Linked DNA regions of Homo sapiens. The protein of the gene in region 1 purifies or fractionates together with the protein of each later gene. This does not show direct contact. Each region holds a gene or a part of one and is shown in the gene's direction. Other genes may lie near its edges. The genes, in order: MFGE8, IDH2, TNNT3, MYH6, MYOT, MYH15 and FABP3.

The links.
Region 2: the proteins of MFGE8 (region 1) and IDH2 purify together in Homo sapiens (co-immunoprecipitation; one large-scale study listed by IntAct). This does not show direct contact.
Region 3: the proteins of MFGE8 (region 1) and TNNT3 purify together in Homo sapiens (co-immunoprecipitation; one large-scale study listed by IntAct). This does not show direct contact.
Region 4: the proteins of MFGE8 (region 1) and MYH6 purify together in Homo sapiens (co-immunoprecipitation; one large-scale study listed by IntAct). This does not show direct contact.
Region 5: the proteins of MFGE8 (region 1) and MYOT purify together in Homo sapiens (co-immunoprecipitation; one large-scale study listed by IntAct). This does not show direct contact.
Region 6: the proteins of MFGE8 (region 1) and MYH15 purify together in Homo sapiens (co-immunoprecipitation; one large-scale study listed by IntAct). This does not show direct contact.
Region 7: the proteins of MFGE8 (region 1) and FABP3 purify together in Homo sapiens (co-immunoprecipitation; one large-scale study listed by IntAct). This does not show direct contact.

What each region holds. Positions count from the first base shown.
Region 1 is NC_000015.10:88,903,380-88,906,879, reverse strand, and holds part of MFGE8 (lactadherin isoform a preproprotein), read left to right. Parts: intron 1-101; coding exon 102-254; intron 255-978; coding exon 979-1,123; intron 1,124-2,717; coding exon of another isoform or gene 2,718-2,764; exon of another isoform or gene 2,765-3,500.
Region 2 is NC_000015.10:90,099,669-90,103,672, reverse strand, and holds the start of IDH2 (isocitrate dehydrogenase [NADP], mitochondrial isoform 1 precursor), read left to right. Parts: upstream 1-1,204; 5' UTR 1,205-1,282; coding exon 1,283-1,397; exon of another isoform or gene 1,398-1,541; intron 1,542-3,051; exon of another isoform or gene 3,052-3,097; intron 3,098-4,004. UniProt on the Homo sapiens protein: Plays a role in intermediary metabolism and energy production. It may tightly associate or interact with the pyruvate dehydrogenase complex.
Region 3 is NC_000011.10:1,929,703-1,933,202, forward strand, and holds part of TNNT3 (troponin T, fast skeletal muscle), read left to right. Parts: intron 1-102; coding exon of another isoform or gene 103-107; coding exon 108-126; intron 127-2,766; coding exon 2,767-2,812; intron 2,813-3,500. UniProt on the Homo sapiens protein: Troponin T is the tropomyosin-binding subunit of troponin, the thin filament regulatory complex which confers calcium-sensitivity to striated muscle actomyosin ATPase activity.
Region 4 is NC_000014.9:23,384,274-23,387,773, reverse strand, and holds part of MYH6 (myosin-6), read left to right. Parts: coding exon 1-16; intron 17-120; coding exon 121-245; intron 246-1,150; coding exon 1,151-1,459; intron 1,460-1,642; coding exon 1,643-1,846; intron 1,847-2,732; coding exon 2,733-2,858; intron 2,859-3,056; coding exon 3,057-3,332; intron 3,333-3,500. UniProt on the Homo sapiens protein: Muscle contraction.
Region 5 is NC_000005.10:137,870,860-137,874,359, forward strand, and holds part of MYOT (myotilin), read left to right. Parts: coding exon 1-148; intron 149-3,500. UniProt on the Homo sapiens protein: Component of a complex of multiple actin cross-linking proteins. Involved in the control of myofibril assembly and stability at the Z lines in muscle cells.
Region 6 is NC_000003.12:108,507,797-108,511,957, reverse strand, and holds the start of MYH15 (myosin-15), read left to right. Parts: upstream 1-1,361; 5' UTR 1,362-1,370; coding exon of another isoform or gene 1,371-1,427; coding exon 1,428-1,515; intron 1,516-4,161. UniProt on the Homo sapiens protein: Muscle contraction.
Region 7 is NC_000001.11:31,364,753-31,367,414, reverse strand, and holds the end of FABP3 (fatty acid-binding protein, heart), read left to right. Parts: coding exon 1-22; intron 23-1,475; coding exon 1,476-1,529; 3' UTR 1,530-2,162; downstream 2,163-2,662. UniProt on the Homo sapiens protein: FABPs are thought to play a role in the intracellular transport of long-chain fatty acids and their acyl-CoA esters.

The sequences.
Region 1 (3,500 bases):
GTTCCCCCACCCAGTGGGGGAGTGAAGGGATGGGTCTGCTTGGATCTTGAGTGGAAAGAACCCAGGAGATAAGGGTGCCATCTCCCCTGCCCTGTGTCCAGGTGAACCTGCTGCGGAGGATGTGGGTAACAGGTGTGGTGACGCAGGGTGCCAGCCGCTTGGCCAGTCATGAGTACCTGAAGGCCTTCAAGGTGGCCTACAGCCTTAATGGACACGAATTCGATTTCATCCATGATGTTAATAAAAAACACAAGGTAGGTCTTGTTGGGGCCCGAAAGAAGGGCTGTGGTCCATACCCCCTAAGGTTCTAGCATTGACTGAGGACCCCCAGCGAGTCCAGAGAACCCTAGGTGATTGGCTATGATGTGGGTCTTCGGGTGCATCTTGGCTTCTAGAAATTGGGAAACCCAGACTGTGTCCATGTTCTGTGGTTTATAAGCAATAGTCCCACTTTAGAGATGAGACTAGTGAGATTCAAAATGGCACAGTGACCTGTTGAGGGTGATAGTGGTGGTGGAGCTGGGTTTCATTCTGAGCCTTCATGGGTACATGTACAGTTGTGTAGGTTGTACACTGCTCAAGGATGTCATTGCTAAGCAGGCACCATTCACAGTACAGGCATTGTACATTTGTGGAACTCTGTCAGAAAATTGTCATAATAAACTATTTGAGAAAGGAGTGCCTTTTCCTAATTTGCAAAGAGGTACCCTGTAGGTTACAGGTGGCCCTGTGTCAGCTATAGGGGTTTATGCCCAGGCTCCATGATGATTAAGGAAAGTGAGAGGAGAATCTTTGTGGAGGGCCGTGGGGTGGCCAAAGGAGAGGCTGCTGTGTGAGCCTCTGCTGGCTCTTCCAAGTCCTCTTCACCCTCCCAGCCCCACCTCTGCCTCCCAGGTCTGAAGAGGAAGATGAGGTAACCCCAGGGAGGGGGACTGCTCAGATGGACCCCCTTCTCCAGTCTTGTCCCTTCCCTGCTAGGAGTTTGTGGGTAACTGGAACAAAAACGCGGTGCATGTCAACCTGTTTGAGACCCCTGTGGAGGCTCAGTACGTGAGATTGTACCCCACGAGCTGCCACACGGCCTGCACTCTGCGCTTTGAGCTACTGGGCTGTGAGCTGAACGGTGAGTGCTGGGGGTGCGGGTAGGGGGGCACTGTTGGCCAATCCTAGGAGGTGGCCCTCCCTGCTGCCTCTTTTCTCAGCCAAACTGAGCTAGGTAGGGCAGCAACAAGGCACGGGGACCAGGCTTCACTCGGGCAACGCACTCTAGGGGGTCACCTGGCCATAGCAGCCCCACCCAGGTGTTTGCTGTCTGCCAACCCATGACCCAGGGCATTCTGATTGATAGAGAAAAAGACATCAGTTTTCAAAGTATTTTCCCTTCTTCTGGTTGGCTCCTCTCCTGTAGCTTCTAGAACATGTAGCGTTAGGTGTGTTTGGCAGATGTCAGCTTTACGAGGGCAGAGAATCTGTCTGTTTTGTTTGCTTCGGTATTCCCAGGGCCTAGAATGGTGTCTGGTTTATAGGTACTCAATAAATATTTGATGAATGAGCGAATGAATGAATGAGGGGCGTGGGGCCCCGATGAATGATTTATTAAGGGTACACATCTGGTAGGTATTAAGACTTGGTCTAGATCTCTGGGCTCCCGACCACACCCATCCAGAGCTTTCCCTGCCAAACTCTTAAGAGTCTGCACTCCAGAGAAACACAGGGGCTTCTTGGACCACAGGGCTTGGAGCTGGTGCTTCCTGCTGCCTTTTCCAAAGAGATTCCCAGATGAAGAGCTGGGGAGACCATAAAGGGACAGATTTCTGCAGAGCCAGGGGACAGCCTGGGCGAGGTCAGAGTGCCGGGTTTGGGCTGACAGACATTAATTGTCTCAGCCCAGCTCAACCCAGCTTTCCTGAGGTCTGGGTATTTCTCTCTCTTTGCAGCCACAATGCCACCTGCTGGCCATCAGTGGAACTGTAGGGCTCGCTAAGCAGAGCTGCAGAGTGGAGGTTCTTATCTTACCCGCTGGCCTTTTGATCTTACCTGCCCTCCTGTGCCCCGCCTTTCCCCTCTGTGACACCTCTTCCTGTTGTCTCATTTCAGACACCACCCAAATACCCCTCAGAGCTGAGTTCAGTGCCTGGCTGGGTTCAGTGTTTTTAGTATGAACTTGAGTAGGTATGCTTCCTCCACCAGGGGCCCTTTTGAGCCGTATTGTTTCAGTGGGGAGTATAAGACTTTGCCTTCTGCTAGAAGGAAATGTAGGCTACTGGGAAAGGACAGAGCCAGGTCTGTGTGCCTCTCCCTGGAGTCCCTGACACTTGCTGTTTTGGCTTGAAGCCTTTGGCCATTAAAGTTGCCTGTATCCAGGCATGACTGGCCCCTGCTCAGGGCCAAGAGAGGGTGAGTCTTGCAAACCAAGGAAGCCCAGGTACCCTGTCTGCTTCCTTCAGGGTCTGGACCACTCCTTTCCCTATAGGCCTTCCAGTCGGCTGGAGAGTGTTGGTGCATGTGTGCATGTGTGCACGTGTGCATGTGTGTGGGTGGGGCTGAGGTCTGGGGGTACCTGGGATTCCACAAGGGATTCCTCTTTGCAGACATATGGTGTCTTTGGTAAATTAATTATTTAATTCGATGGATGTTTATTAAGATATTGATTAAGCCCCTCCTGGGTGCTTGGCTCTAGGGAATGATTCCTTGACCTCATGTAATTTGCATTGTAGCAAGGAAGGCAGACTTGAGGCGAGGAGCAGATGACAGAGAGCAGTAACAGCTCTGAAGAAAAGCTAGAGGCTGATGAGATGACCATGACTTGGGGTGAGGGGAGAGAGCAAGACAAGGACTGCTCTGTCGGGAAGGCCTTTGACTGGGGGCCTGAATGATGGAGAGCCAGCCACATGAAAAACTTAAAAACAGCACTGCAAAAAGAGCACTGCAGGCAAGGAATTGGTAAATGCAAAGGCCCTGGGGCATGTTGAAGGGTGGAAGGAAGGCCAGTGGAGCTGGAGCCAAGAGATGGAGGGGCAGCTTGGTGGGTGAAGAGCCCCAGGGACCCGCAGTGTCATCACCTAGGAGCTTCTTAGAAATGCAGACTGAGGCCGGGTGCGGTGGCTCACGCCTGTAATCCCAGCACTTTGGGAGGCCGAGGCGAGCGGATCACCTGAGGTCAGGAGATCAAGACCAGCTTGGCCAACATGGCGAAGCCCCGTCTCTACTAAAAAAATACAAAAATTAGCCAGGCGTGGTGGCAGGTGCCTGTAATCCCAGCTACTAGGGAGGCTGAGGCAGGATAATTGCCTGAACCCGGTCAGAAGGTGGAGGTTGCAGTGAGCCGAGATCATGCCACTGCACTCCAGCCTGGGTGACAGAGCGAGACTGTGTCTCAAACAAACAAACAAAAAAACAAAAAAAAAGAAATACAGACTGAAAGCCCCAGCCTAGACTTGCTGAAACATAAGCTTTTTTTTTTTATATCAAGATCCCCAGGTGATCTGTGAGAATTACTC
Region 2 (4,004 bases), 1.2 Mb from region 1:
CAGGCCTCAGGAGCAGCTCTCTCTGACCCTCTCCCTCCCTCCTGTCTTTGGCCCCTCACTCTCCTCCGAGGCCAGCCATAGAAACTGGAATCCTTCTTCCTCAAGGCAGGTCATAGAAACCAGAGCCCTTCTCCCCCAAAGCCAGACATCGAACCCAAAAATATTACTCTTTCTCCCACACATTTCTGGGTAAAAACTGGCCATAAATTATCTGACCTACCTTGTTTGCTTGCAGGTCCTAAGACCCCTCCATCCCAGAGAGAGTCCTGCCCCGTACTCAGAAGGAAGGAATGCTGCAGAGAAAGGTCAAGAAGAATCTACACGGACAGGACTTGCTGGGTTTCCCCACTCAGGTTATTGGCCTTCTGGTCCAATCATATTTCTTTTTTCGTGGTTTTTTTTTTTTTTTTTTGAGACGGAGTCTCACTCTGTTGCCCAGGCTGGAGTGCAGTGGCATGATCTCAGCTCACTGCAATCTCTGCCTCTCAGGTTCAAGTGATTCTCCCGCCTCAGCCTCCTGAGTAGCTGGGATTACAGGCGCGCGCCACCATGCCCGATCAATTTTTGTATTTTTAGTAGAGACAGGGGTTTCATTATGTTAGCCAGCCTGGTCTCGAACTCCTGACTTCAAGTGATCCGCCTGCCTCGACCTCCCAAAAGTTCTAGGATTACAGACGTGAGCCACCGCGCCCGGCCCAAAGTGAGATTTCAACTCTCTCTACACCAGCTGGACCTGACAGCGGACTCGCGGAGGCGCAGACGCCGCCGGCGGTCTTAGCTCAAGAATGAAGCAGCCGCACTGGGCTAATGCGCCTTTGGGTTCAGCCCGGCAGGCGAGGGAAGCAAGAGTTCGCTCAGATTGGCTTTTGGGTTTAAGCTAAAGCGTCAGAAACTGACATCCAGGTTTACATGGGGCATCCTGGAGAGGGTCAGCCTCGCAAGCGGCTCTGCTAATCCCCCAGCCCTGATCCCGCTCGCGGGTCCCGGTGGGTCTCACGCCTGTAGCTCCTGCGGAGCTGGGCTTTCAGCGGCGCCCAGAGAAGCACCAGCCGGGCCTGGCCGCCGGGTCCCGGCTCCCGCGGGACGCTGGAGGCGTCGGCGGCCCTGGCCCCGCCTCCTCCCCGGCAAGGCCCAATGGGGCGGCAGGCCCGGCAGCCCCGCCCCGGTGGTGCCCGCGCGGCCAGCGCCCGCCAGGCCCAGCGTTAGCCCGCGGCCAGGCAGCCGGGAGGAGCGGCGCGCGCTCGGACCTCTCCCGCCCTGCTCGTTCGCTCTCCAGCTTGGGATGGCCGGCTACCTGCGGGTCGTGCGCTCGCTCTGCAGAGCCTCAGGCTCGCGGCCGGCCTGGGCGCCGGCGGCCCTGACAGCCCCCACCTCGCAAGAGCAGCCGCGGCGCCACTGTGAGTGCCGCGCGGAGGGTCCAGGCAGGCGCGCGCCCCCAGCTGCGACGTGGCGGCTTCCCAGGCTGGGGCCGGGAAGCACGTCCCGCCAGCCCGCAGCCCGGGGACGGCGGGGTCAGGCGCACAAAGGGCCGCGGGGCAGCTTCGCTCCGCGCTCCCCCGCCCGGCGCTTCCCGGCCGTGCCAGGCGCTGGGGTGGGGACTTGAGGGACGGTGGCAACTGGTGGCCCGGGCGACGGCCAGCTCTGCGCGGGCGGGGGCTCGGGGCTGCCGCGCGCCCCTAGGTATTTCGGGAGGGGGTCCTGAGAGTGTCCCGGACCCGAAGGGTGGCCTGCCCGCCCTGCGCCCCTGGAACGAGACGAGCACCCGTGGGGGGCTGGAGCACCCCGCGCGCTCCCCTGGCGAGAGGGAGGGTCGTGGCTCGGCCCCTGCTCAGACAAAGGCTGGGAGGCGGGAGACATGCACTTCCCCTTCCTTTTCAGCCAGGCGCGCGCTGATACCAGGCCCACGTCAGCTATTTTTGGAGCCTTTTACACGACAGCTGGAGGAGCGTCCTTTTTAATTTTCCCCTTTTGTTTGGCCGCCCCCACCCCCACCCCTTCGCCTTCATCGCTGCACTTGAGGCTCCATCCTGGGGCCTCTCCTTGACTTGACCTGCCTTGGCAGGCACATGCCCTCCCTGCCTGGCTCACTCGCCGCAGAGACCTGGCAGCCCGCGCAAAATGTCACTTTGCGGAATCGTTCCCACGGCTTCTGGGTACCCTTAGTTCCCTGCTTAGGAGGGAAGACAGTAGTCGGGTCGTAATAAGCAAGACTTAGCCCGAGCCTCCGTTGCCAACGCAGGCTGCCTTGCTTGGCGTGTGGGCATCGGCCTGCCCCCTCACCCTGGCTACCCAACACAGCTACAAAAGGCAGGGAACAATGTAGGTCCCTTGGCCCTGCCTAATGCCTGTTGCCATGGAAACCCCTATCCTAATCTGGCCAGGAGCCCCTTGCAGTGAGCCAGGAGAGTGAGGAAGAGGGGATGGGGCCCGCTGGCCCTGACCTGGCCAGAGGAGGTAATGGTTAACCGGATTGTGGGAGCAGCTGACTAGAGCCGGGGGGGTAGGGAGGCTTGGGCCCCAGTCCTACCTTCCCTGCCAAGGAGAAAGGGGCATGTCTGCTTTTGTACCTCTGGGAATCTACCTCAGGGATCTGCCCAACAACTCCCAGGTTCCAAGTGCCCCAGGACCCAAAGATTCCCATATAGCACACCACCTTCAGCAAAAATATGGTGGAAGTTAGCCACATTCTTTAATTCTCCCTTTTTTTCTGCCTTGATGGTAAAAAAAAAAAAAAGAAACAAACAACCCGAAAAACACACACAAACAGGAACACAAAGCGCCTTTTAAGGGTCCTGAATTTGGATACAGAAAAAGCAGTCAGTTGCAGGCCCTTCTAGAAGTCCCCATGTGGGTTGGTTATGAATGGGGAAATTGCTTGGTGTTGGAGTTGGACATCAGACTCTACAGTTGCGACTCTGCCAGCTTGTTACCTGGCAACGCAGCTGGAGACAGAATACTTGGCATTCCCCTTGATGACAAGGAAAGAATATTTTGGGGCTAAAAGAGCCCCGTGTCTTTGCTGCCTGGTAATTCCTGCACGCATCTTTTCCTATTTTGCAACGCCATAGGCTTCCAGCGACTGCTGGTGATGTTTCTGGTAAGTTAGAGCTTGGGGCAGTGCGGACCAGTTCTGTGAACGGCTCAGTGGCAGAATTACTTATCTAGCCTTCCTTCACTCCTAACCCAGAAACTTCTTAATTCTTGCCCCTTAAGTGTGCAGATCTTTCTGCCACGTCAGATAAGGCCCTAGCTGCCCTGCCAGAGCTGATTGGGGTGGTTGTGTTTAGGCCTAGTAGGTACTGAGGAAAAGCCTCTTTGGAATGGCTGAGGCCTGCTCCCACATCTTCTGTGTGAAGTTGAGGGCCCTTGGGCTGGTTCCATTCAGGGTATGAGGTGCTGGAAACTGCTCTCAGATTACTGGAAGCCAGGGTCTGTGGCCTTCCCTGGGGTTTATACTCTGTAAACCCATGTTAAAAATACCAGCAGATTGCAAATATTAGTACACTGTAGGTTGTAAGCTTCTTCAGGGCATGGGGCCTATTGCTGGAGAGAGATGCCACCCGTGTACATCTGGTGCAGGCTGCTGGTAAGAACTCACTGGCCCCTGTGTGGCAATGCATACCAGATGGGTGAGAGGGGAGGAAACACATTCAGTGAAACAGAAGGTGAGGGCAGGGCAGCCCTGACCACAGATGGAGTTGACTTCAACTTGACCTTTATTTATGTCTTTGACAAAAGTAGTATACTCCTACTTTGTGCCAGACACCATGCCGGGTGCTGGGGATAGAGCTGGGAATAAAACCAGCAGAGACTCTTTCAAAACCCTTAGGAGCTCAAATTCTGATGTGGGAGGGGGCAGACAGTAAGCAAGATAGATGTTGACTAGTATGATATATGGGTACAAGAGCTAAGGAAGGCCAGGCACTGTGGCTTACACCTGTAATCCCAGAATTTTGGGGGGCTGAGGTGGGAGGATTGCTTGAGGCTGGGAGCTCCAGACCAGC
Region 3 (3,500 bases), on another chromosome or scaffold:
AGTGAAGGGGAACCCAGGGCCGCAGGCCGCCCAGTCTCACCCAGGCTGTCTCTCTCCCTCTCCCCACGCTGGTGTCCCTCTCCCTACGCTGGTGCTGTGTGGACCAGAGGAGAAACCGAGACCCAAGTGAGTGTGGGGTCCTGGCAGGCCCGCTGCTGAGTGTGTTCTGGGGTGGGGGTGGTCAAGTGAGTGTGGGGTCCTGGCAGGCCCAGTGCCGAGTGTGTTCTGGGGTGGCGGTGGCCAAGTGAGTGTGGGGTCCTGGCAGGCCCAGCGCCTCGTGTGTTCCGTGGTGGAGGCGGAGGAGAGGGCCAGGGCCAGATGCCTGGAGCCTGCATTCGGAGGGACGCTCAGAGCGCAGGGTGGGAGGGATGAGGGTCACCTGGGAGATGGGCTTGGGAGGCCCAGCAGGGTGTGATTTTGCCCAGGGTCATCCAGTGCAGACAAGGAGGGCTTCCTGTAGGAGGAGGCTGCAGACGAGGAAGGAGGGAGGAGAGGTGGGTGGGAGAGAGTTGAGGAAGGAAGGCGGGGCAGCTGGTGCAGGGAGTCTGGCCACCGCAACACCCCACGGCCTTCGGGGGACCACACCAAGCCCCGCCATACTTCTAGGACTCCCAGAGTCCTAGATTGAAAAGCGACAGGAAAGTGAGTCCGGAAGTGGAGAAAGGTGGGGGACTCAGCCCAGAAACCCACTTCAGAATGACACCTTGACCGTGTCCAGAAGAGCTCACTGTGCAGGGGCCCCTGCTCCCCTTTGGGGCAGAATTCAGAGGAGCTTGTCCTCATCGCACCTGCTTGTGAGCACTTCGTGGGTTGGTTTTTTTAATGCAGCTCTTCTGACTTTTCTGCTTTTGATCGGTATTCACCAGCCACAGCACTCGCTACGTGATTCACCCTTTTATCTCTCGAGTGCTCTTGCCTGTGTGTTGCTCTGTGCGAAGTGGAATCTTAGAGCATCTTGACACACACTCACTGTTGGCTCCCACTTGGGGAGCATTGCAGATTCTCAGAAGAGTGAGAACATCTGAAGGGTACAGCCGGCGTATTCCCACCCTTTGCACTGTATTTTTCAGTGATTTTAAGTACAGTAATGCTGGATCATGAGATATTTTCTCATTTTAGAAAAATTGTTTGTGTTTTCATTATGAAAATAAGACACCTCATGAAAGAAAATTTGGAAAATATATAAAAGTCAAATGAAGAAAAAACGTCATCTATAATTCTCCCACCCAGCCAGCCAGACTGTGGAAAAGAGCAGAAAGAAATAAAAAGCCTTATTTCTTCCTTTTTTCCATGCATAGCGCTTGGAAAAAAAAGATTTAAAGTCGGCCTTGTTTTTCAAACATCATACCGTCTCTACGGCCTTGAATTCTGCTTTTTTTAAAATTTAGCACTATTCATAAGTATTTTTCCATGTTTTTACACAGTCTTCTTAAATATTTTGAATGGCCACATAATATTCCATCAATTGGACAAACCATAATTTTCCTAACCATTCCCCTATTGCAGGCTTTCCCCAATATTTTACTATCATAAATAACGCTGGTTGGAAAGCGTTTTCCATCTTTAGGGTTATTTCCGTAGGCCACATTCCCAGAACTGGAATTACTGGGTCAAAGAGTATGAATGTTCTTAAGGCTTTGACATCCACTGCCAAATTGCTTTCCACAAGGGCCTGGCCAACGCCGTCTCCTACGTGGGATGTGAGCGGGTCTGTGTCCCACACCCTCCTCACCCAGGGACAGGAACGTGCTTTTACATTGCAGCCTCTGATGGATGAGAAACGGCACCTCATGATTCTTTGGCTTTGCGCCCTAACAGTCACTCGGGGCCAGCGTTTCCCTGAGTTTGGGATGGGTCGTCTCTTCTCTGAGAACTCGTAGCTACGGCCATTGCTCATTTGTCTCCTGGTGGAGGAATCTCTGTGTTTTCTTAGTCATCAGTTTGCATAAGGATATAAGTCTTCTCTGTATTTGCTGAAAATTTTTTTTAGTCTTTTTTTTTTGCCTTTCCATTTTCCGTTTTTTTTTTTTTTTTCACATACATACGTTTTTCATTTGCGTGGTGTCATCTGGCCTTCTTTCCCTTAGAGGCACCTTCTGGTGCTCCTGAGCTTAGGAAACCCTTTCCTGCTCCAGTTTCTGATTGATATTTAGTTCCACTTTCTTCTATGGTTTGTTGGAAAAAATTGTTGTTGTTTTAACTCTTTGCTGCATCTGGAATGTATTGGTGAGAGGAGGGGACTGCACACCCAGCCGGAGAGGGGGCCTCATTTCCCCTTCAGATTGCTTTCTTCCCAGCCCCCTCTCCTCCTTCCTTTGGGCCCCCAGAGAGAAAGATGAAAGAGGGGCTGGGGAAAGGCACAGGCTCGCAGCAGCCATTCCTGCCCAGGGAGGCCACCGCCACCCACAGTGGCCATCGCTTCTCACCCGACATGGCTGCATTTGTTTATCTGTTTGAGGAGGAAACAGAGGTGCCCTCCCTGGTAGCTGGGGTGCAGTGACATTGCAATGGCCAGAAGCCAAAAGGCAGACGGTGGCGCTGGAAGCGGAAGCCTTCTTGAGGGGCTCAAGCCACTCTCAGGATGGTGGGCTACAAACCTCATAAGAATAAAGCTGGGGCAAACGTGTCACTAGGCGGGCATGCTTGGCTGGGGGCCAGAGCAGGAGGGCACCAGGGTTGGCAGGGGCCAGCGGGGAAAGCGCCAGGCTGACCCTCTGGGGTGGGTCTCCGGGTCTCTGCTCACGGGCCTCTCTGTCTCCTCTTCAGACTCACTGCTCCTAAGATCCCAGAAGGGGAGAAAGTGGACTTCGATGTAAGTTTACAGGACTCTGGTTAACATGTCCACGGTTTCCCCACACCCCAGCTTTTGGGCTCTAGGCCTCAGAAGGTCACTTCCTCCCAAGTAGCCAGAGCCGGGGCCTCCTGGGTCTGGGCAATTCTACCATAGCTTATTCCTGGGCCAGAGGAAACCCCTCTAAGAATAAGCATCTCTCTTCCCTTCTCCTCCATCTATCCTTCTATCCATCCATCCACCCACCCACGTAAGCTCCTACCCATTCACCTATCCATTCATACACCCACCCACACACCCATCCACTCAACCATCTATCCATCCATTCATCCACCCAACCACCCACCTACCCATCCATCCATCCATCCATCCATCCATCCTGCCTTACTTCCATCCATCCAACCAGCCACGTATCCACTCACCCATTCATCCATCCATCCACCCACCCAACCACCCATTCATACACTCACCTACCTATCCACTCACTCATCTCTCCACTCACCTACTCGCTCACCCACCCATCCACCCATCCATCCATCCATTCATACCACTCATTCATCTACTCATCCATCCATCGATCCATCTATCATCCACTCACTCACATAACCATCCACTCATCCACCCTCCCACCCACCCACCCATTCACCCATTCATCCTCCCATCCACCCACCCACCCACTCACCCACCATCCACGCATCCTCTACCATTA
Region 4 (3,500 bases), on another chromosome or scaffold:
AACAAGAACCTTCAGGGTGTGCTGGGGGTCCAAGAGGCCAGAGATGAGTTGGTGGGAGGGAGGGCCATGCAGGGGCAGGGGGAACATAGGCTTTGAGCTTTCTGGCCCTCTGGTCCCCAGAGGAAATCTCGGACCTTACTGAGCAGCTAGGAGAAGGAGGAAAGAATGTGCATGAGCTGGAGAAGGTCCGCAAACAGCTGGAGGTGGAGAAGCTGGAGCTGCAGTCAGCCCTGGAGGAGGCAGAGGTGAGGGCCGAGAACTCCCTGCACCCCATCCCTGTTCTGCCGCTGTCTCCCACTTCTCCCTCACCTGGGGGTGACCCTGACCCCAGGACAAAATCTATTCATTCCATATTCTTTGTTCAACATTATCTACCCACTATTCACTACCCATGACTGCCTCCAAAGCCAAGGTCTGCACAAAGGAAAATGTCAGTCTGATTAGAGGCCAAAGGTTTTGTTTCCCACCAGGTTTTAAAAGTTGGAATCTGGCCATAATAATAACCACTTAGACAGTGGGTAGGAGTGTGGGGTTCCAGAGTCAAACAGGCCTGAGTTGGAACACAGCTTGAGGACTTTCACTGCAGCGTTGGGCAAAATCTTTAATCTCTCTCTGCCTCAGTTTTCTCATCTGTAAAATGGAATTAACTGTACATACCTCATATGATTTTACACATGATTATTATAAAGATTAAATGAGGTAACACATTTAAGCACTTAATATATATTAGCTATTGTTACTCTTCATTTCTAAGCACCTGGGAATAGCCCTGAGTTTTCTGGGCTTCTAACTTTTCTCAGGAAAGGGTGAGGGACCTGGAAAACAAGATAAAATTTTGTATTTGTGGTTATAAAAATTCCTCCATTTTCTATAATACTTTAGACAGGTCAGGAATTTATGCAGTGTTAGTGCTGGAGGGTCTGGCAATTGTGAGGTCCAAACCCTTTTCTTGACAGGGGAAGCCCAGAGAGTCCAGCACTTTCTCCCCAATAGCACCGTGGTGGGCATGGGGTGCAGATCCCACCTCCCCATCTCTTCTCAGCTCTTCTTCTCTGGGCGATAGTCCTGGCTGACACCGTGTATCTTCTCATCCTCCCTCTCAACCCTGCCCTGTGCCCTGTCTGCCCGCCCTCGCCCCACCCCTTCCCAGGCCTCCCTGGAGCACGAGGAGGGCAAGATCCTCCGGGCCCAGCTAGAGTTCAACCAGATCAAGGCAGAGATCGAGCGGAAGCTGGCAGAGAAGGACGAGGAGATGGAACAGGCCAAGCGCAACCACCAGCGGGTGGTGGACTCGCTGCAGACCTCCCTGGATGCAGAGACACGCAGCCGCAACGAGGTCCTGAGGGTGAAGAAGAAGATGGAAGGAGACCTCAATGAGATGGAGATCCAGCTCAGCCACGCCAACCGCATGGCTGCCGAGGCCCAGAAGCAAGTCAAGAGCCTCCAGAGCTTGCTGAAGGTACATGGGGGCGGGAGGTCCCCTCAGGGGACTGGCCTCCATGTGGCCTGGAGAAGCAGTGGTGTCTGGATACAGGCACCAGATTCCTCCTGCCCCTGGGTTACTGCAGGGACCTCTGACAGGTGCCCTCAGTGAAGGGCACCGAGGCTGGCTTCTGCTCACACCCACTCTCCTGATGCTCAGGACACCCAGATCCAGCTGGACGATGCGGTCCGTGCCAACGACGACCTGAAGGAGAACATCGCCATCGTGGAGCGGCGCAACAACCTGCTGCAGGCTGAGCTGGAGGAGCTGCGTGCCGTGGTGGAGCAGACAGAGCGGTCCCGGAAGCTGGCGGAGCAGGAGCTGATTGAGACCAGCGAGCGGGTGCAGCTGCTGCATTCCCAGGTGAGGGGGTCAGGAGCCACCTTGTGGAAACCTACTGAGTGCAGAGCCCAGGACATCTAGAAAAGCCAGATGTTCTAAGTGAGCACATCTAGCCAGGGTCACAAATCATTTCCTCTCTTAGGCCAACTCTCATCTGTGGTGGCTGCAGAACCATTATATTAAGAAAGCGGTCTCTACTTAGAAGCTAAGAGGGTCATGATTGATTGCTGATACCTGCCAAAGCCACAAATCTGGGAGTAGTGGAATGTATCCTGTTATTTGATATTCTTGATCTGAAAGACAGCCTCCGGCTTGCTCTGTAAAGATGAGAGTTTGGGAGTTTAAAGAAGCATAACTGCATCTCTTGCAAACCAAGCTGGCTAGAACACCATTTTCTGCAATCCCACCCACACTGTTTTCAGTTATACTCTGCAATGAGACTTTGTGCTCACCTTTTGCAGTGCCCTGTGGAGTTTTGTTCTTTAATCTAGTATGTGTGAGAATGACATCATCCACTTACCTCATCCCCTCTTCCTTACCCCACTACATTCTTGGTATAGCTATAAACATCTCTGGAATATTGTCCTGGTAAAAAGTTGTTTCCATCTTCCTTGGAATATTGTCATGCTCCTACGTAAACATGTTGCTAAAGAGCTCCAGGGTAATACTGCAGACCTTTTGCTATTTGAAGTCTTTTTTCAGAGTTTAGTAATCTTAGATACAATGTCTAGAATGTATGCACTTTCATAGGAAAAGGGAAAGCAGGTACAAAACGATCAATAGTCTAAAAGTGGGCTTGTTGTTTTAAAAAAAAAATGACCACCTTTAATTCTTTCTGGAGAAAGGGTATGAAATCAGGTAACAAAGTGTAGTATATATTTGATCATTTTTCTCTCTCCATGTCTAGAACACCAGCCTCATCAACCAGAAGAAGAAGATGGAGTCGGATCTGACCCAGCTCCAGTCGGAAGTGGAGGAGGCAGTGCAGGAGTGCAGAAACGCCGAGGAGAAGGCCAAGAAGGCCATCACGGATGTAAGTGACCGCCCACCTTCCGCCTCCCCTAAAGACAGAAACAAGGCCTTGGGTCCAGGCCAGGCCACTGTGCTGTAACACCAAGCCAACTCTGCAGTTCTGTGGATTTGAGGGCCTGATGGGAGAAAGGAGATCCTTGGGGGGCAAAAGGCCCCGGCCCCTGGCCCATGTTCCTTGCCACCTCTCTCCTGCACACAGGCCGCCATGATGGCAGAGGAGCTGAAGAAGGAGCAGGACACCAGCGCCCACCTGGAGCGCATGAAGAAGAACATGGAGCAGACCATTAAGGACCTGCAGCACCGGCTGGACGAGGCCGAGCAGATCGCCCTCAAGGGAGGCAAGAAGCAGCTGCAGAAGCTGGAAGCGCGGGTGCGGGAGCTGGAGGGTGAGCTGGAGGCCGAGCAGAAGCGCAACGCAGAGTCGGTGAAGGGCATGAGGAAGAGCGAGCGGCGCATCAAGGAGCTCACCTACCAGGTGCGGCGGACGCCAGACACCAGGAGTAGATGTGGAAGTTTCTTCTCTGGCCCCACTGCCCCGCCCTCACAGGGCTCCTCTCACCTCCTCCTTGAGATGCTGTTGGTAGATTTAACGTTCTTCTCACGCTCTGCAGTCAGTTTGACTTGAGTCTATGAGTTTTTCCAG
Region 5 (3,500 bases), on another chromosome or scaffold:
CTGCTTCTCCCCAGCAGCATGCTGGCTCCAACCCAGGCCAAAGGGTTACAACCACCTATAACCAGTCCCCAGCCAGCTTCCTCAGCTCCATATTACCATCACAGCCTGATTACAATAGCAGTAAAATCCCTTCCGCTATGGATTCCAAGTAAGTGAATTTTTATATACCGCATGTACAGTGAACTTATATCTGAGGAGTTTGCGAGGGGGTAGGAGTTTTGGGGGTATGCTGCAGTTCATTCTTTACTATCTAAAAAGGCAATGTGACCTTACAGTCTCATTCCATAGTTCTACTAGAACATGCTGAACCAGGGTACTGGCAATAAGAGGTCATCTGACTATTCTCCAGTGTCCAAGCTGCGCTGAATCCAATTACCTATTACCCCATAAAATTATTTACCCATTATTTTCCATCTTTGAAAAAAATAATTTCTCACATACCAAAGAACAATGAACTTTTCCTTTAGTTCTAAGCTAAGCTCCTCATGCTGTAAATTTAATTCCTCTGGTTCTGGGCTTGGCTAAGATGAACACCTGTCTGCTCTTCTTCAGATAGGATTTCCTCTCACATAAGCAGAGGCTATTAAGTTTCTTCTCAGTCTTTTCTTCCTATCCCTTTTCCCCTCTAATCCTGAATATCCACTTGGCTGAAAAATTTTTAAATTAACAAATAAAAAAACCTGGAACTCAGACCCTGGAATGTATACATTTTCCTTACTGTGATCAGAAGAAGGAAGGCCTGAATAGATGAAGGCTTATGACCTTACGGTTTCGTTTGGTAATTAAAACCACACCTTGTTCAAATTAGTTGGGTTGATCTAAATACAGGGACTAATACTGGGGCCTTATGTAAACATGTGCTATTTCCACTACCCTAAGACTGTCCTAGGAGAACCTAGTATGAAAAAGGAGATGGTGGTTATGCTTTTTTTAAAACATGAACTGAATACCTTGTGCTTATGCAAACTATTGGCTATCAGCTTTCCTGTTCCTTGGCTGGCTGGAACATCAGAGAATTAAATCAGAGGCATCTCAAAAATTGTCTGATGGAATATGTTTTGTTGCAGGCTTACTAATACATTCACTCAACTCTGCTAATTTCTCGCAGTCTTCTCTAGAGGCTAATTTTTCTACAAACTCCTATTATTGGTGACAACTTTGGAAATCTAGTTGAACTGCCTATAGCAATTCAACTTGCAAAAAAAAACCTTTTCAATATTTTAAAAAATAAAAATCAGGAAAACCAAAAACATTTGTTAGAATCCTATAGATATTAAGTTGAACCATTTGAAATGGCTGATAGTCAACTGTTTTTGACCTACAAAAATGGCATTCTCACAGGTTTAACCTAATATTTTAAAAGGATGTTTTTAATAATTGAGAGCCCTTTCTTTCTCTTCCCTCCCAAATTCCCTTTATAATATATAGATCTTTCTTGGTTATATTTACCCAGATGATCATTTTCCATCTAGCTTTCTATTATTTCCATATTTCCTATATTAGCATTTTAAAATCTAGAAGAATTTTTTGTTTTTCTTAGTAAAGTCTTTCAATCATATTTCAAATTACTGCCCAGAAAAGAAAGTGATCAAAGACTTAAGAAAAGAGAAAGGCAAAAACATAATAAGAAATAAAGCCTAGGAGGTCCCCAAACCAGAGATCAAAGATCCACTTTAGCTGTTCCATTTTCAGCAACCACAGATAACTCTTTAATCTTCCCATAGCTACTTGATACCCATTTCGTGTCCAGCTGTGCAGAGTGGAAAGCCCTGGCCCTTTGAACATTTGTGCACAACTCCCTCGTTATTATGGGCTCCAGTTCGCCCTGACTTCCAAAATAATCCCTTGGATTCTGACCTAGAGAAATTTGAAAGCTTTATTTAGATTTTCATCAATAGGAAGCTCTTAGGCAAACATTTTACCCAGTTGATCAAACCACAGACTGAAAACTGAGGGGAACTCAATTGTTCCTTCCAAAAAGCTTGCTATGTGAAATTCAGCAAGCACTTTACCTACCCAGTGCTTCAATTTTCTGGTCTGTAGCAATATTAAAGAGTTAGGTAATTAATGATAGAGAAAGGACCTATAAAGCAGTGTGCAAACGTACTATTAGTTTGTAAATGGGAGCATTTATCAAGTCGTAACACTTAATCCACCTAAACTGGGAATAATGAGAGTATTCAGTGAACAAAGTGACTGAGGTTACATATACATCAGTGATTCTCAGGATTGGTTTTGATAATCCTTCAGGACTTCTCAGATATATTCAGAATTTCCCAGATATGACAAGTCTAAAAACAATTATTTAATGCTAATTCACATTAACAAATGTGTGACTTATAAAGATGATAAGCTAGCATTTTTAAAAAAAAAAAAAACAGTAGGCTAGGCCAGGTGTGGCTCACACCTGTAATCCCAGCACTTTGGGAGGCCAAGGTGGATGGATCACCCAAGGTCAGGAGTTTGAGACCAGCCTGGCCAACATGGTGAAACCCTGTCTCTACTAAAAAAAAAATACAAAAAAATTAGCAGGGTGTTGTGGCAGGCACCTATAATCCCAGCTACCTGGGAGGCTGAGGCATGAGAATCGCTTAAACCCGGGAGACATAGAGAGAGGCAGAGGTTGCAGTGAGCCAAGTCCATGCCATTGCACTCCAGCCTGGACAACAAGAATGAAACTCCGTCTCAAAAAAAAAAAAGTGGTCTATTATAATTCTATACGATTGAAAAAATATGAGATCTATAAGGCCAAAGAGATTTTGACACTTTGATCTAGGAATTCAATCTTTAAAAAAAAAATCGCTATTTTAAAAAACATTTTGTTTGGCTATTAACTGAACAAATCAGACTTTAAAAATTTATATAGACAACCATAAAGATCTTAAGACCTGAAATGTCAGGAGAGGAAATGTGTATCATTAGCTTTCAATAGAGTGTCCTGAATACTATGAAAATCACTCATTCACTCAACTGATAGTATCTCCTATACCCATGCTCTGTGTTCGTGGATATAAATGATATAATGATAACAAATAAGACATATTTTTTCTCCAGAATGTTTACAATCTAATGATTACTAACCAAGTTCCCAAAGCCAGTAAAAATTAAAACTCTGGCCCTACTTGGAGGAAATACATTTATACTTAGCTCACAAGTCCTTTTAATGATCCTTGAGAATATTTGGAAAGGATCATTTCAGAGAAGAGACCAAGATTGTCTCATCTGGATAGCCAGAGAACATTTATTATAATAATGGTAAAATACTCATTGAGGGCAGTGGCTAGTTTCCTCACATTAAATAGATTAATAAAGATTAGTCCCTGCAGGCCGGGTGCGGTGGCTCAAGCCTGTAATCCCAGAACTTTGGGAGGCCCAGGCAGGCAGATTACCAGAGGTCAGCAGTTTGAGACCAGCCTGGCCAACATGGCAAAACCCCGTCTCTACTAAAAATTCAAAAATTAGCTGAGCATGGTGGCGGGTGCCTGTAATCCCAGCTACTT
Region 6 (4,161 bases), on another chromosome or scaffold:
GCTGGCAGAAATAAAACTAACTCTTAGCCTGAACCAGTAGGCTTTGCTTTAAATCATACTCCTTTAAACTAGATCCTACAAGTGGTATCACTATACCTATCCAAGCCACCACAAAGAAGAGAGCAGATTAAGTGCAGTAAAATACATTAGTTTATTGGATTTGTTCATTGCAAGATAGTAAGTGATTACAGTTCATTCTGAAGTGGGTGCTGATCTGTCCTCAAAGACAGCACCTGAGCTAAGCAAACTTGGCAAGTCCTTCTCTACCTTCTTACCTATAAATGTGATGAGTAACACTTGCCTTGCATGCTTGAGTGAAGAGGAAGACTTTTTTTGTCCAAATAGAGAGAATAGCTTCTCATTTAAGATCATGAAGGCCCAGTTTCCATTTCTTCTTCTCCCTGTTATCAAATGTAAAGTGTGAAAATTAAAGATAAACTATGTCCAGTGTTTGGTATACAGTGGGTGCTCAGTGACTTCAGCCTTGGTAATTTGTCCAGCAACTTAGTCCCTCTAAGACTGATACTTGCCTTGCTTGAGCCAATGAACTTCTTTATTTATTCCAGCTTCACTCACATCACCATGTAACCTGCTTGCCACCTTCAGCCTGGGCTTCTTCATTACTGCTCTTGGCCAGGCCTCCCAAATGCCCAGCTGTGCCTGTATTTTTGTAAATCATTTGCTCCCAGACACTTATCTCTGCCAAGATACTTATCTTTTTATCCCTTTACTGTCTATTACTGAACATTTATCTGAATCACTTCTCTTTGTAACCATACTCTGTCTATAACGGTCTGTCTGCTTGGGGGTAATTAGATACCTCGAAACCCCCCTCCACGCCTATCAAAGGCCTAGTGTCCGCAACTTGATGTTTCTCCATCTGGAATATCCTACCACCTGTCAGAACTCCATGGCGCAGGGTGGCATTATGACTTTCACTGACTACAGGCACTTCTGTCTTTTAAGGACCATTTCTCCACAAAAAAATATTAAAAATCAGATTTCATAACTGTGTTGGCCTAAAGATGAATATAATCCAGGCTCTGTTCATTAATATGTATCATTCATATTACTTTTATATTTTTCTTCTGATTTAAAAATAAATTAAACATTTTCATGGGCCCCTAAAAGCATTGTGGGCCTCAGGCACTGTGCCTTCTATGTCTAGTGGGTAAGTCAGCCCTGCTAGAGTCAGATATTCTTGAGTCCAATTTTGTATAAATTTGAGACATAGCGAAGAGAAAGAAGGGGCACAGGTAGTTACAGGAAAACTTAACACTCTTTAGTCTATCTATGTGAATGGTTGCTCATTTAGAGCTTGATGCCTTATTTCCACTTTTTTCTTCTCTGTATCAATTTTTTTTTTTCAGGTTGAATCTTGCCTACTCACGTTTAGGGCCTTTTTTTGGTGGATTGCTTTAATAAAGATGGATCTGTCAGACCTTGGAGAAGCCGCAGCCTTCCTCAGAAGAAGTGAAGCTGAGCTGCTTCTACTACAGGCCACAGCCTTGGATGGTGAGACATGTGGTGGTTGCTGGCTTCACTTTATTTTGCTCCTTCAAGATGGTGACTAAGATATTTGATTGACAGAGAAGAGCCATCAGTTCTAGAGCCTAACTTATTTGCTTAGGGTATGATCAGCCTCTAGGAAACTGAGCAATTGAGGGCCTCTGAGTATCCAGGGTAGGAATGGAAGTACCCACAGAAGAGGAGGGTGGCTGGGAGGCAGTCTAGGCCCGGGCCCTACACACTTGATCCTAAGACAGATTTTCTCTTCAAGGAGCCCCTGTTGTAACACAGACACCTGCAGGAATGGCCAGACAAAGCCTTTCCTAGAAACCTCTTAGTTATCAGTGAATGCCACAGTAGAGAGAGGGGCCTGTGACTTAGACTGGTGGGTGGGGTTTGTACATTGTGGGGAAGAAGAAAGGGAAAGACTCTGGTAAGGCTGCAGACTTTGAAGTTGTCTCTGGCTCTCCAGAATTTTTTGATGTTGGAGCCTTGCCTCTAGCGGTCTTCTAGGTCAGCAGGGTCACTCAGCCAACACTAAGCAAAAGGTAATTAGGAGACTTGCTCACCCTGATTCATAATTCCTTGGTAGTTACAGGCAAGGACAAAGGTTAATGAGGATTTAGCCTTAAAAAAAAAAGGCTAAGTTCTACATTGAAATCTCTAAATAAATGTTATTCTTTTTCCTGCTACCTTTACATGTCTGTGTTGAATTTCAGCTAATTGGAGATTTAGAAATCAGATTCACAGTATGATATAACATGAAGCTACCTACATGTCTTAATCCAAAATTATTCAGCAGTGCAACATAAGGACTGGCTGAATGTCGTTCTAGTATTCAGAATTAGTCAACATTAGACTTTAATATGACCAATTATAATTCAAGCCAGTTATGGAGGATATTATATTTCCATCACAGACCAGTCCTGGATCAGTTCCCAGTTTCCAGTCATTGGATTCATGACTGTGATTGGATTTTAGGCTAATTATAATCCATCAAATCAAATACGATAACAGAACTATCCCTGAGGTCAGAACTGGTCATGCAGAGGCTTATCGCAGGTAGTTAGATAATGGAGGACAAGATAATAGTGATGCCAGGAAGAAAAAAAAATTGAGCCTAAGCATTAGAGATAATTGGATGATGCATTTATTAAAATCAGCACCATAAATAATTACTTAAAACATAGCAATCTACATAATTTCCTGTTAATTTTTTGGACCAAACAATCCTTCCTCATAGAAATGCACTGGCAGCAGAGACAAGTGTTAGCAAAAGTTGTTCATCTTCCCAGGCTGGTAGACAATGGAGTTTGCTTTTTTGAACTCGGGTCAAATGGAAGTAGTGTGATGACGAGTATTTAGCAGGTAGTCTTGGGATCAAATTCCCTGTCCTTGACCATCTCTGGCTGGGTAATTAGAGCAAATCACTTCACTTTATTGAGCCCTGGTTTCCTCATGTATCAAAGGAGATAATAATACTTGTCCGGTCTGCCTTCCTCCATTGCTGTGGGGACCAAATGAGACTATAAATGTGAAAAATAAATATAATGCATTATTATGATACCCGAGAAGGAAAACTAGAATTCCTGGGTGACAGTGAAGAAGCCCAGGTGGTTGTAGAGCTAGGACAAAACACCATTCGAAAGCCAAATGTAAATAATTCTTATATTAGAACATGTAAGCGATCTATTTAAAATAACTATAAGACTGAATATAGTATTACCCCTGTTTTAATCAATATCCTAGAAAAAAGATTCAAAAGAAATGCTTCAATACATAACAGTGGTTATCTCTGAGTTGTTTGATTATGGGTGATTAAAAACATTCTTTTCTTCATACATTATTCTTCAAGTTTTCTTCAATAAGCACATATTAGCTTTATATTGGAAAAGATATTTAATTGTCTAAAAAATGGAATCATATAGAAAAAGGCCTACTTTACAGATGAGAATACGAAGGCCAAAAGAGATGAAGTCATGTGGCTTTATATCTTTTTACCAGCAAAGCCAGTGTTAAAATCCTGGCTGCCTCCCTCAAATCCATTGCTATCTACATTTCCAGCTCTGCATTATTCATGAACACCAGGAATTAAAATTGACAGAGTTCATTTACTTCATTTTTTAAAATGTCCCTGTCAGGGTTTGGGTCTCCTATGAGAAAGGATTTCTGATAATTTTTATTCCCCACTAAGTGTTTCCAGGGGTGGTAAGAGAGAGACTTCATCATGAGGCAGGTGGTGAGCCTACTCCTGGAGAGAAGAATTGGAGGAGAAAAAGCTAAGAATGTGTTAGAGGAGGCAGGCTGTAATGCAGGAGCACTGATTCAGGAGGTGGATGATCTCATTTCTAGAGTCATTATTGTAGTGACTGCCACTAATTAGCTATGTGACTATGGGCAACTCTCTTCATCTCTCTCCCAAGGTTCTTTTTCTAAAAAGAAAGAGAAAGAGAGACAGAGGGAGAGAGACTGTGCCAGGTGACCTTCAAGTTTCTTTCAAGTGATAACATTTGGTTTAAAATGCAGAGCATTTTACCTTAAACACACACACAAAATGTATGCTAACTGGGTGCTTTTCAAAAACAAGCATATTTTCATAGACATAACACAAAGCAAAATCAGTTTTTGCAAAAAGGGACCAAAATAATGAAT
Region 7 (2,662 bases), on another chromosome or scaffold:
AATTGATGGAAAACTCATCCTGGTAAGATGGGCAACTTTGGAGCTATATCTGATTGGTTATTACTACTGCTCTTTCAGCCAAGCCTGTTCTAAAAAGCCAAGTCCTCCCCTGAGAGCTGTAGAAGCTGGGACAAGAGAGTGGTTGTGGGTCAGGGTGGTATCAGGTGGGAATTTTCTGTGTAGTGGCTTTGGACTCACACAGGCCGGAACTCAAATCTTACCTTATAGGCTACATGACTGTGGGCAAATCACCTTTTCCAAGTGCAACTGTAAAACGGGTATTAATAATACCAACCTTGTAGGGCTGCTGGGAAGCCTGTAAGAGACAGTGTATGCACAGCACAAAGCATCACTGATTGAGGAACACAGCAGGTGCTCCATGTCCTTTGTTTGCTCTTCCTGTGTTTCTACCTTGCCTCACCTCAGGAAGAAGTAGAAAACAGGGCCAAATCTGATCCCAGGCCCTCTAGGAGGGGCTCCCATTGCCTATCTCAGCATTCCCTTTCCTCTCCTCCCTAGGACTGCATTGTCACTTGCAGGGACAGGCTCGTGACTGGTGGGGACACTGAATGACAGTACAGTCCTTTCTTCCCCATTCTAGTCCTACCCCATTTTCATGCTTTCTATGTCTGGCCTACTGAAACTACTTGACTACTGCTTGGGTAGGAAGTACCACAGCCAGGCTGGCAGATCTGTTCAAGCTTGGGGACTTCACTTGGAGAATCTAGCCTTGACTGAATTCCCCCCAGACCCAGGGAGAGCAGCCAACTGTGGATTCTGCCTAACCACAGGGCCTCAGGTTTTCACCTAGGCATCTTCACTGCACACCTTCTTGGGTCAGCATAACCTGTTAACTGCATTCTTGTACTCATGTGGGACAGGGGTCCCCTTGAAGTTTGGAATGAGGTGCCTAGCTTTGGTGGGGATGTGATATGCAGGACCAAATTCTCAGTGGCAGCTGAACTATGGTGAGGCCATGGGTCTGGCTCTATGATGCCAGACCGGATAGTGGGAGGTACAGGGCTCTGGCCCTGGCACTACTCTAAGTTAGGGAAGGATTGGAGTTAGTAGCCAAACACAGTCCTTTCCTGAGTCTCTGGATATTTTTCCTATTTGTCAACTATATGCCAGGCACCATCTTAGACACTAAGGATGAAGGAAGCCAAATGGTATAAGGGAAGGAAAAACACTCAGGATCTTGACCAAATTACTTCCTCTCTAAAGGCTCGTTTTTTCCAAATCTCTAAAATAAGAATTACAATGCCTATCTTAAGGATTTGCTGTGCATATCAGAAAAAAAAAATTATGTATGTATACACACACACACACACACACACACACACACACACACATACATACATATAGCCGGCACATAGTAGGTACTCAAGTGACAATTATCAGGAGGAAGGGAGGGTAGAATGCTCGCAATGGTGTTCCTGGCTCCACCCCCCATCTCACTCTGTCTTTCCTTCCAGACACTCACCCACGGCACTGCAGTTTGCACTCGCACTTATGAGAAAGAGGCATGACCTGACTGCACTGTTGCTGACTACTACTCTGCCAATCGGCTACCCCTCGACTCAGCACCACATTGCCTCATTTCTTCCTCTGCATTTTGTACAAATCCACGAATTCTTCTGGGGTCAGGTGCCACTGACCGGGATCCAGTTCCAGTTCCCATGGTGTATGTGGTTTTTTTTTTTTTTTTTTAACTGCACTCATAGGGTGCTCTGAGGTCAATAAAGCAGAGCCAAGGCCACCCAGTTGCCTTTTTGCCTTTGGTAACATAACTCTGGGAGTCTTGGTTTATCCTGTGTGTCAGAGAGTGGGCAGAAATAACGGCCTGAAGGTTACTGAGGAAGAAGCACTGGATGGGAGACTGAAATGGACAGTCTCGGAGCCTGTTAATCAGCTGATCACCTTACACATTTAATAATAAAAGAGCTGTACCTACACGTTGCCTTTACACTGCCCCCCCTCCATGGTCAAATGACCTAGTTCAGTCAGTGATGGGGCTTCCCCAGGTTTGGCTATTGAACTGTCACTTCAGGCCCATCCTACACTGAAAGCTCTTGGGTCTGGCTGTTCTCTGTGAAATGCTGTAGTCTCTCCCTTTCCAGAATTCAGGTTCAGGGCACAGAACCCAGGCTTGTACCATGGTGGTGGGAGAAAATGACCACTGGCCAAGAGGACTGCTGACCTGTGCACCAGGCTAGTACTTATGACTACAAATTCTTACTGCTTCTCTAATCAACTCTGAGGGAAGAGGGCATCTGATCATTACAAAAGGGAGGGCTTATAAGTGATCTCCCAAGAAGGCAGTGATCTGCTAGTGCCTTTGGCTCTGTACCTCTGCTGGGCATCTCTCCAAGGTCTAAGGTAACATATTAAATGTTTTTGTCAGCTAATGCAGGCTCAGTGACTTTAAGTCTGTAAGTTACCCAGGAAGAAGGATTATAGGAAAAATAACTCAGTAAGTTTAAAACCAAACACATTTCCATTTAGTGACAGGAATTTAAGCAAGGACCTGAAGTAGAATCAACTGATTCACACAGTAGTAAATACAAAGTAGAACAATGATCTTGGCTTCGCTGTCTGGTTCAGTGGTCTGCTGGAATGCAATACACAAGTTAAGTCACACTGCAGACTGTTTTCTAGCTGT